Linked DNA regions of Homo sapiens. The protein of the gene in region 2 interacts with the protein of the main gene of each other region in a pairwise test. Each region holds a gene or a part of one and is shown on either strand. Other genes may lie near its edges. The genes, in order: ZIC3 and MESP1.

The links.
Region 1: the proteins of MESP1 (region 2) and ZIC3 interact in a two-hybrid assay, tested with the Homo sapiens proteins (one large-scale study listed by BioGRID).

What each region holds. Positions count from the first base shown.
Region 1 is NC_000023.11:137,569,046-137,572,837, reverse strand, and holds the end of ZIC3 (zinc finger protein ZIC 3), read right to left. Parts: coding exon 3,773-3,792; intron 2,948-3,772; coding exon 2,768-2,947; 3' UTR 736-2,767; downstream 1-735. UniProt on the Homo sapiens protein: Acts as a transcriptional activator. Required in the earliest stages in both axial midline development and left-right (LR) asymmetry specification. Binds to the minimal GLI-consensus sequence 5'-GGGTGGTC-3'.
Region 2 is NC_000015.10:89,749,322-89,753,012, forward strand, and holds MESP1 (mesoderm posterior protein 1), read right to left. Parts: upstream 1,929-3,691; 5' UTR 1,911-1,928; coding exon 1,188-1,910; intron 907-1,187; coding exon 823-906; 3' UTR 554-822; downstream 1-553. UniProt on the Homo sapiens protein: Transcription factor. Plays a role in the epithelialization of somitic mesoderm and in the development of cardiac mesoderm. Defines the rostrocaudal patterning of the somites by participating in distinct Notch pathways.

The DNA.
Region 1 (3,792 bases), on a different chromosome or scaffold from region 2:
AATTTTATGGTAGAATAATTTCAGGTAACTAAGAAAAGATCAAACTGCTCTTTGTCTCAGGAGATATTTAATACATTTAATTGAAAGGGAGGCAGGTTTTTGGTTGAATCCTGTATCCAACCCATGGCTCTACTTCCACGTAAAGTTAGGTTAGATTGAGGGTGGGGGAGGGAACTCATGGAGAAAGTGGTAAATTATGGAAGTTCATTGTACAGTTCAGAAGAAAAATACACTATTTAGATTTCACAATGGAACACACTTAGAGCCAGTCTTATGAATATATACTTTCTGAGAACTTGCTGAGCATTTAAAATGGTCTCTGGTTTGAGGTGAAGGAAAAAGCCTGAAATAGGAATCTGGTCCAGCACCCTCAATGTCAAGGTCAAGATCGGAATGTCTGGGTTGGGAGTGATAGACTGACCAGGTTACCTGCTCATCACATGTGTAGTCATCCCAATCTCTGTTCATGGCATTCAGGCTTGGATATTGGTGGAAGAAAATGCAAAAGACCCCATTATTCTCCACTAACAAAAAATAGCCTCCAAAGCAATTTGCAATTAGAAACTGTCAATAACTAATTGTCTGTTGACAAAGATCAGTAGATAACTTAAATAGACTGCTTCAACCGCATTCACAGAATCAAAGTTTCTTTTAATCATCAGAAGTTCTGTAAGCATTTCAATTTTAGATTGATTTATTTGAACATGAAAAAAAATCAGGCACCAAATACAAAAATGTTATAACATAAATAAGATGTGCCAAGACTTTATTTCTTCAAAAAGAACAATAAACAAAATTCTAGAATTGAAAATGATCATATATAATACCAAATTGACTGCCACCAAAAACCTAGAGCATTGCCCCTTAAAGGAGGTACTTAAGCCTATTCAATACATTCTAAATACTTTACAATTCCTTATGTCCACCTTTCTGTTATTCATGCAGAGATTGGGCTCTCAATAACAAACAGCACCCTAATAAAAAAGGTCTCAATACTCTACCCACTCCAGCCCCCCAAAATAGCAATCAATTTCTTTTCCATATAACCACTGTAAAAGAACTGTTTGTCCAAATGAGTTGCTTCACTGAAGATTAAATGGATTGTTAACATTTTATCACAAAGCAAACAACCGTTTTTCATTGTTATTGATTTTAATGGAAACAATGCTCTTAACATCTTTGCCTACAAATCATGAACTTTAAAAATACATATTTTGCAATTTTTTTCCCATAGCATCATTTCAGAACTGCTGCAGTTATTACACCGCTATATAAATGTTATGGATAATTGCGATAATTATGAATTGAACTATATACAGCAAACAAATCAGCCTTTGCCTTCCAAAATTGTAAATGGACTATGGTTCTTTTAAGAAGCACTTTAACCATAAGTAAGCAATGCTCAACTGGCCTTACTCATCACCACTGTTTTAGACATAAGCTATCTTTTGAAAATATATAGATAGCTACTAGATAGATTGATAGGCAGATTAGATAAGTCATAGATACAAACATATATAGGTATATGGGTGATCTCTAGATAGAACAGACAGACATGCATCCTGCCGCAATTTTCATTTTTATGTAAGGTAATAAAGAACTAAGGGACATAAAATTCAGTAGGTTACCTTATGTTTATATATGTAGGGCAGGGATGATTAAATCCAGCTTCTCAGTCTTTGAAGTACAAGATTGAGATGTCATGGCCACTAACTGAATTGATCAGTAATATTTGATTTGCATGCCGAAAATCCAGGACAAACACATTTAAACTCGCAGTTAAACAACCATCTGAGATAGAGATAAAGAAAGGAGAGTCTTCCCAGATGGAAACTGACACTGTAAGGAATTTATACTGTAATAGAAAAATAATTTAACAATTAAAAAAGGGATCTGAGTGAGTTATAAATACCAACAAACAAGATTTAATTTGCTCACATCTCCTCTTTGTAGAAGAAGGCTGTTACAAAACAAGAGAAAGGAGTCAGTGGTTCCAAAATTGTAAATTGTGTTCTTCTTTCAAAACAATTTTTAATGCTAAAGCAGTTATAATCAAAAGCTGTACAGAATTTGTTAGAAAACATTTATCCATAAATATTGTTCAGTTCCCGGCACTTGTAGCAATAATTAAATTACAAACGATAAATATGGCATCAATGGATATGTATTTACAAAAAAAAAGTTATTACAAAAGGCAACTGTATACTAAACGTCACAATGTGTAGAGTAACATCACATCCTCAGCCTGAAAAAATACTGAACAACAGTTTCGACCCTATTAGACAAAAATACATTCACAAGTGTAATGCTTTGAGGAAAAGTTCAAGACATAACAGGACTTTGGCACGGTTTAAGACTGTGAGAGTTTAAACAATCACCACTAAGGCGAAAAAGAATTTCCATCAGTTTAACATCACCACCACCAACAAGCCTTCTATAACTTCCTCTCAAGAAACAGGACAAGTGTTAAAATGAATTGGAGGAGTTTAAGAATGGGGTGTGCAGAGAGCAAGAGGAAGGGGAAGAAAAAGTAGTGTAAAGATTTTGTAAAAAATGCTTCAAATGCCAAAACATATTTTCTATCCTGAGAAAAGGGCATGGCTACTTTTGGATCTTGCCCAAAACCTTCCTGGACAATTGCAATTAACAAGATGTAGCCCTATATATGGCCTCTTGCCTTAAAACTCCATTTCCATCTGATTGGTCTCAGTTTTCTTTTAAAAATGTATTTGGTCCATTCTATAATTAACAGGGTTTGTGTTTGTCCTCAGACGTACCATTCGTTAAAATTAGGAGGAAGTCCAGGGTTGTGGCTGGTGCTAGTTTGAACTGCAGAAGGGGTTTTAGTGGTATCTTTACTGTTTGCAGAAGCTATAGCGGGTGGAGTGGAAGATTCATAGCCTGAACTGGCAGCAGGGGAGGAATCTGACCCTTGAGATTCATGAACCTAAAATTAACATGTATATATTATAATGAATATAATTCCAACTGGCAATGTGCAAGCAAAAACAAGAGCAGAATTCGAGCACTGTAACAACAAGACCGCCCAGTGACCCACTTAAAAGAAAAATGCTGCTTAAAAAAAATCCGTATTACCGATGTCTAGAAAACCCGGAGATGTTCGCCAAAAACCAGTTTTGCTCCTAAGACTGGTGTTACGGAAAAGGAATAAAGCATTCCGTTTTGGTCATGCCACTTCAAAAATGCTTTCTCCGCGGATGGAGTGAGGTAAGCAGTACACTGTGAGGTCCTATAAAATACTAACTCCGGGCCCAGGTTTCACCAAGCCCGTTTCGGCTTGAGAAAGCAGGTACAGAGAAGGTGGCACAGGGGCCCTGAGCGCTGCGAAGTCGCAGACAAATGTGTGGGAATCAGATTGCACTCCTCGGCCCTATTGTTTTATCCGAAGCCAAAGAGCGAATGAACCACCCACCCTCGGGTTCGGCGCGGCTACTCTCGGTTCCCACCGCGGGCTGAGTCGGGAAGAGGCGGCCACGGCAGCCCCGCAAGCCCAGGCGAGCTCGGCTAGAGCTTCCCAGTAAACAACCGATTGTTCCCTCCGCTTCCTCCCCCTCCCAACTTTGCTCACTCCCGCCCACCCCCTCACCCCCACCCCCGCCCGGTCCCCAAAATGGGTTCAAGGTGTCACTGCTGGAGCAAATCGGATTTAACGTGGAAGACAGAGGGTTGGCAGCGCGGGCGCTTCCGTTCCGCGGCCCGGCGTCGGGCCGAGTGTTTACAAACCGCCGACCGCTAATAAAGAGGTAATTACCTTCATGTGTTTGCGCAGGG
Region 2 (3,691 bases):
CGGCGGAGGGTGGGGGAGTTCCAAGGCCAGGATGCTCCCGTGCATGGAGAATAAGACCACAGGATGCAAGAAAATAACCCCTTGGAGCTGTTATCCCTCAGGCCCCAACATGTATGGAGCTGGCAAAATCCCACAAGAGCTGAGCGCTGGGACTCTGGAGGCCTACCTGGGCTTGAGCGCTGATCCTCATCCTTCTGTAAAATGGTTACTTGAGTATAATAGGTACCTGATGTACATACAATAAATACTCAATAATGGAGTTGTATTTCTACACAGATATTTTGGTTTTAACCAGTTCCCCACCAGGTTCAAAGAAAAGATGAGCAGATTCTACTTGCCGCTGCCTTCTCACAGGACGTCCCTCCCCACCCATTCCAGGCTGACCCATCTGGACTAGATGCTGAGCCAGGGCTGGGGGTAAGGCCAAAGGGGTCTGGGCCTGTGGGGGTCGGGGGGCTAAAGATTGCAAGAACCCCTCCCACCTCTCCCATGCTCTTCTTTGGAGGGAGAGAGGGAGCTCTGTGTCCACGGGTAGGAAGAAGAAATTGCCAACTGACACCAGTACAGTTTATTCACAAATAAATAAATTCACATTAGGCAGAGCCTCCTGCTTGCCTCAAAGTGTCTAGCCCTATGGGTCCCTCCATGGAGGGAGGGGCTGAGAAGGGCCGCCGCGGTGGGGACGGCTCTCACCCGCAGGAATGCCCCCGTCGGGATCGCCCGTGCCCTCTTCCAGGAAAGGCAGTCTGCCAAGGAACCACTTCGAAGGTGCTGAGGCCAAAAAGCCTCGGTGCTCACAGAGACGGCGTCAGTTGTCCCTTGTCACTTGGGCTCCTCAGGCAGCCACTCCAGAGGCGAGAGGGGCATCCAGGTCTCCAACAGAGCCAGCACGTCGCCCGGAAGGAGCTGTAGGGAGAGACGGAACAGCGCAGCCCTCAAGCACTGGTGGCCTTGTGCGGGTGTCCGCGCTCGTGGGCTCCACTCTCAGGGGGCCCCTAGCGAGGGGAGACCCAGTCCTCTGCGTGGCCTTTCCCTGCCTTCGCTTCTTGGAGCCCTGGGCATACTATGGTGGCCAGGTGGCCAGGCTGCCGGCGGGGAGCAGCAGGGTGCCTGGTCCTCACCTTGGCGGGCGGTGGGGCTGTGCGCGGGGGCACGGACGAAGGGGGCGCGGGGAAGGGGACACTAACCGGGGACGGTGGGCTTGGCTCCATCGCCTGCCCTTCAGGGCACGCCGCCTCGGCGAACAGCGCAGGCGGGTCGCGCGGCTCGGGTGCAGCTCGGGCTCCGGGGCAGGCAGGCGGGGATCCCCAGGACGCCCCGGCGCGGACGGCGGATACCAGGCCCAGCCCGCGCCCCTGCCCCTGCCCCTCAGCCTGCGTCCGTGTCTGCATCTGCGCGGGGCAGTCGTCGGGGCACAGCGGGCAGCCCCGAGGGGACCCCGCGTCACCGCGCTGCCGGCACCGGCGCTGGAGACTCTCCTCGCTGAGGCCTAGCACGGCCGACAGGTGGCCGATATAGCGGATAGCCAGGCGCAGCGTCTCGATCTTGGTCAGGCTCTGGCCCGCGGGCGCCACGGACGGCGGTAGAAAGCGGCGCAGCTCGTGCAGGGCGCGGGCCAGCGTGCGCATGCGCAGTTTCTCCCGCTCACTGGCGCTCTGCCTCTGCCCGCTGCCCAGGCGGCTGCTGCGCGCGCCGCGCCTACCTACGGAGGGGGCGCGGGGGTCCCGGAGGGTGCCTGGCCGCGCGGGGCTCGCCACGGGGCTGTCGGCTGGGGTGCTGCCCCATGAGTCTGGGGACGAGACGAGGGAGCGGCCGCAGTCCTTGTCGGAGGGCGGCGGCCGCCGAGTTGGGCCCCAGGCCGCAGAGAGCATCCAGGACTCGGAGAGCGGCGGGCACAGGGGCTGGGCCATGGCAGCGGCGGCGCGTCTGGGGGCCGGCGGCCGGCGGCCGCTTTATGCCGAGCCCGAGGTGTGAAGTGGCCCCTTCCAGGCCGCATCAGCACATCAAAGTGGGCTCGGGGCTTGGAGGGGGCGGAGCCTGACCCTTTGAATCCACGGCGGGGGGCCAAGGTGCCAGCCCCTTGACTGCGCCTGTTTCGCCCCACCTGGGCCCTCGCTTGGGCGCCCGACCCAGCCTCTCGGCCTTCCCGCCTGCGCCCAGTGTTGGGTGAAGCCCGGGGCGTTGGGCCAGCCCTGCAGGTTAAAGGAAGCGGGGTCAGAAAAACGAAATCTAGATCCTAGGTTTGGGGCCTGCCTTCACCTGTTGGGGACCTTATGCAAATTCTTAGTTCTTTTGCACCTTAGCTTCCAATTTGTATAATGAGAGCCTCAGGGCATGCGCCAATTGGACAGTGGAGTAGAGTAAGGACCAGGAGCAGGGACCCTCATTCCCTCTAAAGGTGGAGAAAACAGTAAACCACTTCTCCTTTGAGGCAGGATGGCCCTGGGTAGACCCTTCCCTGGTAAGAACATGTGGACAGTGCAAGGAAGCTTGCACCCCGGCAAATTCAATAAGCTGCCGAGTCTGGTCAGGATGCTGGACCTTCTGAGCAGAGGGAGGGGGTTAAGCCTGCTCCAACCCCAGGCCACCTCTAGCCTGGCAAGGTCTGGAGCTTGGCCTGTTGCCACAGCTGTCACCACTGGCCTTTACCTGATGTTCTGCCGCTATTGGACAGGTATAACAGGTTTTCCCAATGAAATGTGAGTGGAAATGACGCAGCAAAGGCATTTGACAAAATCCAACACCCTTCGTGATGAAAATTCTCAGCAAACTAAGAATAGAGAGGAATTTCATCAACCTGATGAAAGGCTCCTACAAAGAACCTACAGGTAGCCTCATACTGAGTAGTGAAAGACTGAAATCTTCCCCCCACCCCCCGATTGCAGGAACAAAGCGAGGGTGTCTCTCTTACCACTCCTATTCAACATTGTACCAGATGGAGGATCTAGGCTATGCAATTAGGAAACAAAAGACATACAGGTCAGAAAGGAAGAAATAAAACTCTTTTCGCAGGTTATGGCAGCTCTGGGCCCTGCTGCGCATGAGCCTGACCAATTTAAAGCGGAATCCTGGCTCCAGGAAACCCATGAGACGACCAAAAGGTCGGAGAAGAGGTAGAAAATGCGGCAGAGGCCATAAAAGAGAAAGGCAGAGAGGAAACTGGCTCTGCTGGGCTTTGGGGATGGCCAGACTCTATTTTACATCGGAATCCCAAAATACAGATTTAATGAAGGACTTAGCTTCAGACACCAGTATCAACCTTTAAGTATCAATAGACTGTAATATGTTACTGATTTGGGTCGTGTTGATCCTACTCAACCTATTGACTTAACCCAGCTTGTCAATGGAAGAGGTGTGACCATTCAGCCACTTAAAGAGGATTATGGTGTTCAGCTGGTCGAAAAGGCCGCAGACACCTTTCAGGTGAAAGTTAATATTGGGCCGGGCGCGGTGGCTCACACCTGTAATCCCAGCACTTTGGCAGGCCAAGGGGGGTGGATCATGAGGTCAGGAGATTGAGACCACCCTGGCCACCGTGGTGAAACCCCGTCTTATTAAAAATGCAAAAATTAGCCAGGCATGGTGGCACGTGCCTGTAGTCCCAGCTACTTGGGAGGCTGAGGTAGGAGAATCACTTGAACCCGGGAGGTGGAGGTTGCAGTGAGCTGAGATCATGCCACTGCACTCCAGT